Linked DNA regions of Homo sapiens. The protein of the gene in region 2 purifies or fractionates together with the protein of the main gene of each other region. This does not show direct contact. Each region holds a gene or a part of one and is shown on either strand. Other genes may lie near its edges. The genes, in order: LRP5, RASD2 and LRP6.

What was found.
Region 1: the proteins of RASD2 (region 2) and LRP5 purify together in Homo sapiens (affinity purification with mass spectrometry; 3 studies listed by BioGRID and IntAct, with this or other methods). This does not show direct contact.
Region 3: the proteins of RASD2 (region 2) and LRP6 purify together in Homo sapiens (affinity purification with mass spectrometry; 3 studies listed by BioGRID and IntAct, with this or other methods). This does not show direct contact.

Annotation. Positions count from the first base shown.
Region 1 is NC_000011.10:68,441,464-68,445,114, reverse strand, and holds part of LRP5 (low-density lipoprotein receptor-related protein 5 isoform 1 precursor), read right to left. Parts: intron 1-3,651. UniProt on the Homo sapiens protein: Acts as a coreceptor with members of the frizzled family of seven-transmembrane spanning receptors to transduce signal by Wnt proteins.
Region 2 is NC_000022.11:35,547,230-35,550,880, forward strand, and holds part of RASD2 (GTP-binding protein Rhes precursor), read left to right. Parts: intron 1-3,651. UniProt on the Homo sapiens protein: GTPase signaling protein that binds to and hydrolyzes GTP. Regulates signaling pathways involving G-proteins-coupled receptor and heterotrimeric proteins such as GNB1, GNB2 and GNB3.
Region 3 is NC_000012.12:12,256,927-12,260,577, forward strand, and holds part of LRP6 (low-density lipoprotein receptor-related protein 6 isoform b precursor), read right to left. Parts: intron 1-3,651. UniProt on the Homo sapiens protein: Component of the Wnt-Fzd-LRP5-LRP6 complex that triggers beta-catenin signaling through inducing aggregation of receptor-ligand complexes into ribosome-sized signalosomes.

The DNA.
Region 1 (3,651 bases), on a different chromosome or scaffold from region 2:
AAATAAATTTAAAATTAAATAAAATAATAAAATAAAGTAATAAAATGGGCTCGAGAAGGCCTGCTTCCTGGGGCTATCCTGATGGCTGGTGAGTAGCCTCTGGGGAGTGGCCAGGCCCTTCCCCTGCCCTTTAGGAAGCCGCACTGGGCCCTGCTCTTTCTGGAGAGGGTCCTCTTTGGCCCAGAGAGCCAGTCTGGGTATTCCTCAGGATTTGACCCCAACGTTGAGAGGGCATGAGACTGGGGGCACTGGGGAAGATGCTTCAAAGCAGAGAGCAGGCAGGGAGGCAGCAGAGAGGGCTTCCTACAGCTGCCCAAGCCCCAGCCTATGGGGTCTGTTTCCACCTCTTCCCATGAACTTGACCAGGCCTGGTTTCTCTCCTACATCCCAAGGCAGTTTGAGATTCTGCCCAAATCTGCACTGGGCAGACTTCTGGCAAGATCCACCAGTGCAGCGCCTCGGCAATGTCTCAGATGTCCCGTGAACCACGGCCAGGCCCTATTCAAAGAGGACTGGATCTCGGCCCAGGGTGGGGGGTGGGGGGTGGGGGCTGGGGAGGCCACTCGGCTCATCTGCTATTCCTGCGTTGTTGTTGTTTTGACTGAGTCTCGCTCTTGTTGCCCAGGCTGGAGTACAATGGCATGATCTCGGCTCACTACAACCTCTGCCTCCCAGGTTCAAGTGATTCTCCAGCCTCAGACTCCCGAGAAGCTGGGATTACAGGCATGCGCCACCACACCCAGCTAATTTTTTTGTATTTTTAGTAGAGATGGGGTTTCACTATGTTGGCCAGGCTGGTCTCGAACTCCTGACCTCAGGTGATCCACCCGCCTTGGTCTCCCAAAGTGCTGGGATGACAGGTGTGAGCCACCATGCCTGGCCTATTCCTGCATTCTTAGAGTTCTCTGTACATCTCACTGTTCAATTTCTGCTATTCCAGTCCCTGGTAATAAGCCTGTAGACGGAACTTTCTCTGTTCAAATTCTCATAGAGTTTCTGCCTCCTGATAGACCCCGACTAATTCACGCCACCCATAAGCCATCAGCCAAGAAACAAGCTGGATGCCCACCTTGCTCATCAAATCTAATTACATCCCAGAAGAATTAAAGATGTGAACGTAAAACGAAAGGAGGAGGACGTTAAGAAAGAGAGTGTGGGCTGGGCATGGTGGCTCACGTCTGTAATCCCAGCACTTTGGGAGGCCGAGGTGGGTGGATCACCTGAGGTCGCGAGTTCGAGACCAGCCTGACCAACATGGAGAAACCCCCGTCTCTACTAAAAGTACAAAATTAGCCAGGCATGGTGGTGCATGCCTATAATCCCAGCTACTCGGGAAGGTAAGGCAGGAGAATCACTCCAACCCGGGAGGCGGAGGTTACAGTGAGCTGAGATTGCGCCACTGCACTCCAGCCTGGGCAACAGGAGCAAAACTCTGTCTCAAAAAAAAAAGAGAGAGAGTGTGAAAATAAGTTGTTTTTTATGATCAGAGCAGGGAAGGCCTTTCTGAACATAACCAAAAAAAAAAAAAATATATATATATATATATATATATATATATATATATATATATGCCATAAAAGAGGAGATTGATAATTTCTTTTCTTTTCTTTTTTTTTTTTTTTTTTGAGACAGAGTCTCGCTCTGTCGCCCAGGCTGGAGTGCAATGGCGCGATCTCGGCTCACTGCAACCTCCGCCTCCCATGTTCAAGCAATTCTCATGCTTCAGACTCCCAAGTAGCTGGGATCACCATACCCGGCTAATTTTTAAATTTTTACTAGAGACGGGGTTTCTCCATGTTGGCCAGGCTGGTCTCAAACTCCCGGCCTCAAGTGATCCGCTCATCTCAGCCTCCTAAAGTGCTGAGATTACAGCTGCAAGCCATCACGCTGGGCCCAAAGGTTCTTAAACACACAAAATGATGCTTACATCATTCATGATAAAATAAATATAAATGAAGATCTTAACATGATACCATTTTTACTCTATATTAGACAGGTGGAGAGAAAGGGTGCCAGGGACCGTTTTGCCAGTGTGGCCCTCTGCTGAGAAAAGATGGACTGTCCCTTTCAGAGGGCCACTTGGCAGGAGTGGTTGAAACAGCCAAGGTTCAACCGCAGCAGGAGAGAGGACCATGATGCCCTCCAGTGGGGGCCCAGCCACGCCTGACAAGGAGTGCTGTTCAGCCACCAAGAATGTGACGGCTGTGTCCTCAAAACAGAACAAACTTCAGGGTGCGGGGGAAGCAGAGTAGAAGGTGGTTGTGAGTTGGATGGCCTGGCCCCACTGCCTACCAACCGAACGACCCAGGCCAGTGGTTCATGCTCAGTTCTTCAGCCTCCTTGTTGCAAAATGAGGAAAACAATAGCACCTCCTCCCGGAGATGGGTTACGGTAGAGCTCTAGGCAGGGTGCACACGGCAGCTGGGAGCCTCCGAAATGCTCAGAACAGCAGCTTTTATACATCGTTAGCAGCAAAAGGCAAGGCTCAATGTTGACTCTTCAGATGCTATCTTTCGGGCTTACGAAAACACATATGTCAGCCCAGGCGCAGTGGCTCATGCCTGTAATCCTACCACTTTGGGAGGCTGAGGCAGGAGGATCACTTTAGCTCAGGAGTTCAAGACTAGCCCAGGAAATTTAGTGAGGCCTCACCTCCACAAAAAATTTAAAAATTAGCCTGGCATGATGGTGCACACCTGCCATCTGAGCTACTTGAGGGGACTGAGGCAGGAGAATCGCTTGAGCCCAGGAGTTTGAGGCTGCAGTGAGCTGTGATTGTGCCACTGCACTCCCACTGGGTGACAGAGGAAGTTTGTCTCAAGAACAAACAAAAAACACTTATGTCAATCTGAATAAGGTGAAAGAATCGTTATCAGTGTCTTGCTTATGATAGGAATGGAAGTCATGCAAGATGGCAGGCAGCACTGGGGGAAACCAGGCAGAGGATAAATGGGTCTGTGCTCTTTCTCACAACTGCACATAAATCTACAATTATCTTCTGGCTTGGAAAACAAAGTCCACGCTCTTGTATGCTTGCATATGTACAGATGACCCCTGGGGGGACATAGAAGAAACACACTGCAGGAGGCCATGCCTCCCAGGGAGTCCTGCTTGGCGTCATGGGGGCGGAGTCTCTTTGGACTGCAGACTCTTCTGTATCTTTTGAATTTTGTACCATGAACATATATTTAAAGGATGCAAAATAACTTTGCTAATTTAAAAACAGCTGGCTTCATGCAGAGTTTCTTTTAGGGGCAGGAAAATGTTCTAAAATTAACTGTGGTGAGGGTTGCACACATCTGTGAATACACTAAAACCCACTGAACTGTACCCTTTTTTAAGTGGGTGAGTCATATGGTTAAACAATAAAGTGATTTAAAAAATTAGCTGGCTGCTCAGTGCCATCTCTTATTGCCTGATTAAGATCCTCCCAGCTCCCAAGGGAGAACAGGAAAAGAGAATTCGTGAGCTGCCTGCTGTGTGCTCGGGGGCCCTGCTTGGGTTCCTAGCACTCCTGGCTGGTTAAGCTGGGTTGCAGCAGCAGGAGCAGGGAAGAAGGGCAGTGGGTGTTTAAACTCTCGGCTTCTGGTTACCAGTTCCCTTTGTCCCTAAACAAAGCCAGGCCCTGGGGCCTCCAGAACACTCAGTTAC
Region 2 (3,651 bases):
TGTGCTGGAAATAGTGATGAAGTCGGGGGCCCCGATTCCATTCTGTTAGACTCCAGATCGATTACTCATGGCTGTCGGGGCCGCCTTCCAGATCAGGAGCTGATACCAGCATGCCCCAGGGATATTCCTTTCTAGGGAACAGAATGATGCCCTGGCTGCTGCTTTCCTTCTCCGGAAGATGACCCACCAGAGCTCCAGGGCCCAAGGTCAGTCCACGGGGCTCAGGTCTCCCACACCCCAGGCCTTTGCCACCTCCTAGAGAGGTAAGGGCAGGACCCAGGCAGTGATCACCAAAGGGAAGGGGGCTTGGTCATGGTCATAGTGATGGTGATGGCACTAGCTGACACTTATCAGAAGCTATGGGCCTGGCCCTGTTCTTAGAGCTTGGCATGTAGTTTTTTTTGAAACAGAGTCTCGCTCTGTCACCCAGGCTGGAGTGCAGTGGCGCGATCTCGGCTCACTGCAACCTCTGCCTCCCGGGTTCAAGCGATTCTCCTGCCTCAGTCCCCCAAGTAGCTGGGACTACAGGCATGTGCCACCATGCCCGGCTAATTTTTTGTATTTTTACTAGAGACGGGATTTCACCATGTTAGCCAGGATGGTCTCGATCTCCTGACCTCGTGATCTGCCTACCTCAGCCTCCCAAAGTGCTGAGATTACAGGCGTCAGCCACCGCGGCCAGCCAGCATGTAGTTATTTAACCCTCATAGTAAATAGTTATTCATTCCCTTTTTACAAGTGGGGAAACTGAAGCCCAGAGAGGTTAAGTAACTCACTCCAGTGGTAGCACAGCTCGTAAAGGCAGTCTGCTTTTGTGCTTTCAGACAAAGCCATACCACAGCCTCTCAGCCCTGCTGGGAAGGGTGAGGAGGGACAGGGAGGTTGGGGGGAAGAAGGGGTGAGTGGAGCTGAGGGGCTGTGCCCTTGTTTACACTGCATTAGCATGGTAGCTAAGAGGACAAGCCCGGGACCCAGCACCTGGGTGTGAGCCCTGGTTCCGCTGCTTCCTGGCTTTGTACCTCGAGGCAAGGGATTTTATCTCCTTGTGTCTCAGCACTCTCATCTGTAAGACTGCACCACATCAACACTCATCCTAAAGGGACTGTGAGACTTAAATGAATGAATATATGTAAGGCGCTTGGTGAGCAGATAGTAAATGCACAATAAATCCCCAAGTCTTCTGTTGAGTCAGCATTTGCAAGTGGGCCTGCTACGGGTTACACGATCATTTCCCAAGTCACGCCCCTGAAGTTGCTGAGCAGGGATAAGGGAAGGAGTGAGCAGGCAACTCTCTAGGCATCATTCAGATAACCCCCCAACTGAGGTACTTCTATACAGAGAAACCCATGCCACTCCCAGCCCTGCTGCCGCCTTGAGGCCAAGACTGAGGCTGCGGGGTGGCCCCTCCTTGAGTGCTTTCTCTTCCAGGCTGGCTTTTCCGAGCATCTGACCCAGACAGCAGTCAAGTTCTCCGCTCCACCCCGAGTTTTGGAGAAGGGGCATGTAGATAGGAGAGCCCTGGGTCGACCTGTGTTCGAATCCTTGCTGGGCCTCTTGGCTTAAATGTGTGACCAGAGGCACATGCATCCTGTCTGAGTCTCAGCCTCCCCAGCCACACAGTGGGCTTAACCTCATACCCCGCAGGGAGGCTGTGAGGACTGCAAGAAGGCTTGTGGCGGGAGCTTCCAGCACGTGACGGGTATTGCATTGGTGTCAGCTCCCCCAGCCTTGGGGAGGGGACTGGGTACCCGCTGCAATGAATAAGGCTAATGACAGAGGGAAGGAGAGGGGAGATGTAGAGAGGAAGCACATGCATATTTTCAGCATTAATTTTCAGTGACACAAGTAATACCCAAACACACCCTCCTGCAAACGCTACAGATAAAGCTAATGCCCCTTTGACCCATGTCCCCAATCCCAGGCTCCTGCCCCTGCCCCGGAGGTGGCCACCCTGGCAGTCTGGCATGGAGCCTTCCGGGCCTCCGTGACTACACCGGCATTCGTATTTGTATCCCCACAATGGAGAGTATTTTTGTCTGTCTCTTTTTTATGGCGCATATCATTCTGAGCACAGCTGTCTGATGCTTGTTTTTTTTTCACACACCAACCCGTGCCTCATTTTCCAACCTGGTGGAACCTCATTTTTTCAACCTCATTTTCCTGCTGCTCAGGAAATTCTGAAAGCCATTAATTCCACTGCCAGCTCTTCTTCCAGCTGCCAGACGGGCCGATCTCTGATGCTTGGCATCGCAGTCTCGCATTTGAATATGTCAAGGCCACGAGTCCTCAGGGGCCCCGGATTAGCCTAACGGGATGGGGTTTGGCAGCCCAAGCAGGAAGAGTTGCCAAGCTGACGCTGCCTCGCAAGTGCCTTTCAGAAGAGCCCACACTGCAGTTCCCTCCATCACCTCCCATCCATTCAGGCTTCCTTGGTTAACACTGACTGTGTGCCAGGCCCTGGGGAGACCAGGACGAGTGGGTGATGGAACCCTTCTCTGTGCCCGAGCTGTTTGGAGCACACCTTTGATCTGGACACCATTCTGAATGTGCCATGTGCCATTAAATGGGGGTAAATGATGTGCTCTGGGGGTGCAGAGGAAGGTGGCAGCCATTCTGCCAGAAGCTGGAACTGGTTGCTTCTCTTCTCAAGAATTTGGGCCAATTGCTGATTCCTCTGGGCCTCAGTTTCCTCATCTGTGAGACAGGGATCTTGTCACACCACAAGGCTATCAAGAGTTTGAGCAAAAGTGGTTGGACGCAGTGGCTCATGCCTGTAATCCCAGCTCTTTGGGAGGCCGAGGTGGGCAGATCTCTTGAGGTCAGGAGTTCAAGACCAGCCTGGCTAACACAGTGAAACACCGTCTCTACTAAAAAATACAAAAAATTAGCCAGGTGTGGTGATGGGCACCTGTAATCCCAGTTACTCGGGAGGCTGAGGCAGGAGAATCTCTTGAACCCAGGAGGTGGAGGTTGCAGTGAGCTGAGATCTTGCCATTGCATTCCAGGCTGGGCAACAAGAGTGAAACTCTGTCTCAGAAAATAAATAAATAAATAAATAAAAAATAGCTAGGCATGGTGACAGGCGCCTGTAATCCCAGCTGCTCCAGAGGCTGAGGCAGGAGAATCGCTTAAACCCAGGAGGTGGAAGTTGCAGTGAGCCAAGATCACACCACTGCACTCCAGCCTGGGCCACAGAGAAAGACTCCATCTCAAAAAAAAAAAAAAAAAAAAAAAAGTTTAAGCAAAAGTGAGGAAGGTGCTTATTAAAAGCTGGAAATCAGGATGGAGGTACCAGTCCAGACAGCCTCCCCACCACCCCACCGTCTCCACAGCAGCCCCTGTTTCAGATTCACAAGCCTGCCTTGAGTGATGCAGTGAGTTATCCTGGAGGCAGTGTGGGCCTTGGAGGCCAGCACTCACTTTTTCATCCTATGATTTATTTGAGAAGCAGAGAGCACCTACCGGGTGCCAGGCACGAGCTAGGTGAGAACAGAATCAGGTAGAAATCTCAGCCTAGCCACACGGAAGCTGTGTGATCTTGGGCAGGCTGCATACCCTTTCTGAGCCTCAGTTTGCTCACCTGTAATGCAAAGGTAACAAAATCTTGACAGAGGCATAGTGAGGAATCAAGAGAACAACGGGCCTGGAGCA
Region 3 (3,651 bases), on a different chromosome or scaffold from region 2:
TTACTCAGCCATTAAAAGGAATGAAGTACTGACACATGCAACATGAATGAACCCTGAAAATGCTAAGTGATAGAAGCTAGACACAAAAGGCCACATATTTTATTCCATTTATATGAAATATTCAGAGTAAGCAAATCCATAGAGACAGAAAGTAAATTCATGGTTACCAGAGGCTGAGGGAAGGGAGAAATGGGAAATGTATGGGTTTTGAGGGAGCAGGGGATGATAAGCGTTCTGGAATGAGATAGTGGTGATGTTTTACAACCCTGTGAGTATACTAAAAGCCACCGAACTAGACATTGTAAAATGGAGATTTTTACTGTATGTGAATTATAGCTCCAAAAAACTTGGTTTAAAAAAGTACTTGACAGGCCGGGTGCGGTGGCTCACGCCTGTAATCCCAGCACTTTGGGAGGCCGAGGCGGGTGGATCACGAGGTCAGGAGATCAGACCATCCTGGCTAACACGGTAAAACCCCGTCTCTACTAAAAAAATACAAAAAAAATTAGCTGGGCGTGGTGGTGGGCGCCTGTAGTCCCAGCTACTTGGGAAGCTGAGGCGGGAGAATGGCATGAATCTGGGAGGCGGAGCTTGCAGTGAGCCGAGATCACGCCACTGCACTCCAGCCTGGGCGACAGAGCAAGACTCCCTCTCAAGGAAAAAAAAAAAAAAAAGTACTTGATAGAAAGGGCTTAATGAAAAAAAAAAAAGAAAGAAAGAAAAAAGTACTTGAGGCCAGGCATGGTGGCTCATGCCTGTAATCGCAAGCACTTTGGGAAACCAAGGCAGGAGGATCACTTGAGCCCAGGAATTCGAGACCAGTCTGAGCAACATAGTAAGACCCTGTCTCTACAAAAAAAAAAAAAAAAAAAAAAAAAAAAAAATTAAAAATGAGCCGGGCGTGGTAGCACGTGCCTATAGTCCCAGCTACTCTGGAAGCTGAGGCAGGAGGATCGCCTGAGACCAGGAGGTCCAGGCTGCAGTGAGCCATGATAGCATCACACCACACTCCAGCCTAGGAAACACAGTGAGACCCTGTCTCAAAAAAAAAAAAAAAACTAATTATATCAGTGCAATAGTTATATCCTAAAACCAGAAAACACGTTACATAGTCCACACCTTGAATTCAATCTCAGATATGAATATGCTGATTTTTTAGTAGTCTATTTAACATATCTAATCTATGCTAAGAAATCTTTATTTATTTATTTTGAAAGACAGGGTTTTGTCTGTGATATGGAGTGCAGTGGCATGATCATGGCTCACTGTAGCCTTGAGTTCCTGGGCTCAAGTGATCCTCCTGCCTCAGCCTTCTAAGCAGCTGAAACTACAGGCATGTGCCATCGTGACCAGATAATTTTTTAATTTTTTATAGATGTTTCCCAGGCTGGTCTTGAACTCCTGACCTCAAGTGATCCTCTCGCCTTGGCCTCCTAAAGAGATGGGATTACAGGTGTGAGCCACCATGACCCAGACTAAGAAATCTTTGTAATCGTTACAAATTTATAATTTAACTATAGCTAATGAACGATTGAGTCAAAACACAAAATGGCATTCCAAATAAATGTCATAAAAATTCACATCTTTTTATATTACTTTAAATGTAAAATTTACAGTGCTCAATATGTGCAAACCTCTGGTACATGGTGCATATAAAGGGGAAAAAGGTCTACTCTTCAAAAACTTTTCATCAAAGAGCTATTTCTGCATTAGCATAAATCTAGAAGGTTACAAATAAAGACAATATAATGTGTAGCTAAGAATTCATGGTAATGAAGTTCACTCGTCACCTTTCTCAGACTTGCAAAACATAGTATCTTTAAACTGGATATATGGATATACAGTACTTAAATTATACGTACCAATAAAGCTAATCATTAGTGAGGAAGACTCCTATCCCTTGCAGTCCTTTACTTGTAGTTTGGGTCTTGTAGTGATAAAACAATGACTAAGACCATTAGAGAAAATAGCCTCCTGGTTAAACATACATAATTTGATAAAGGTAGGTTTCCAATATTTGGGTGACTATTTTCTTGGGAAAAAAAAAATGACAGCTGTGTGCAGCAGGCTCACGCCTGTAAGCCCAGCACTTTGGAAGGCCAAAGCGGGTGGACCACCTGAGGTCAGGAGTTCGAGACCAGCCTGGCCAACATGGTGAAACCCCATCTCTACTAAAAACACAAAAATTAGGTAGGCATGATAGTGGGCGCCTACTAATCCCAGCTACTTGGGAGGCTGAGACAGGAGAATCACTTGAACCCAGGAGGCAGATGTCACAGTGAGCCAAGATCATGGCACGGCACTCCAGCCTGGGTGACAGAGCGAGACTCCATCTCAAAAAAAAAAAAAAAAAAAGACTACTGCTGGTCATGTTATTTTTATTGAGAGTCTCATCAATAACTTTAGGCCTGGTGTTAATAACTTACATAACTTAATGTAGTTTTCTGCCTAAAAATATAATTTCATTTTGCATCCCCAATCTCCTCCTGAAATTAGTTCCAAAATATTTAAGCACTTATACAAGGTCCTTCCAAGCAAGATATTACAGAAACTACAAGTTATGATACCGCTAAAAGGATCACAGCATCAAAGTATCAATAATTTTCACCGAAGAGTCCAAGCACATTTTAAAAGTTTCTAGCCTCACACCCGAACAGCTTGAACCTTTAGTGAGAATACTCACTGCCGCAAACACGAACAGCTTGAGAAACAAAAGCATATGTTAATAATACCAAATAACCTTGTTTCCTTGCATTTATGTACTGACAAATTGTATTTTAAAATAAATAATTTTAAGAGCAAACAGCCTGTTCTTAGATTGCCTAGTCTGTATATTTGACTAAATTTCAAAGTTACTCATATAAAACAGTGTTTTATTCACTGAAGTGAGGCTTACTTTATAGAAGATAAACACCCTTATCCGAAGTGAAAACATGCAATGCAGAAACTCAGTATAGCATTCAGCCATCCTGCAGAAAGAAATCCACCAACTGAATAATTGTTGTAAACAAATAATGCAATTTCTCAATTAGATGTCTTGATAAAATTATTTTGCCCATGCTTAACTCTTTAATAAGTATCACAATCATTTGAACTGTCTGTTCTGTAGCTTATTTATAATAATCATCACCTAAAATAGTTATGGCTGCAATCCTTTAGAAATAAATTTAGGCCAGGCGCGGTGGTTCACGCCTGTAATCCCAGCACTTTGGGAGGCCGAGGCGGCTGGATCACCAGGTCAGGAGATGGAGACCAACCTGGCTAACATGGTGAAACCCCGTCTCCACTAAAATACAAAAAAAATTAGCCGGGCGTGTTGGCGGGGCCTGCAGTCCCAGCTACTCGGGAGGCTGAGGCAGGAGAATGGCGTGAACCCGGGGGGCGGAGCTTGCAGTGAGCCGAGATTACGCCACTGCACTCCAGCCTGGGCGACTGAGCAAGACTCCGTCTCAAAAAAAAAAAAAAGAAAAAAAATTTAGTGTCATTCCGTTTTATATCAAACAAAACAGAAATTTCCATAAGTAAAAGTATTTTATGGAGCTTTTATTCCAGTTGCAGAAGAATCAAAAAAAATTCCAAAACCACTGGCCTAAAACTATCAACTGCCAAAAACAGTGCCCAGGACATAGCGACACTTAAAATGTTTTACCA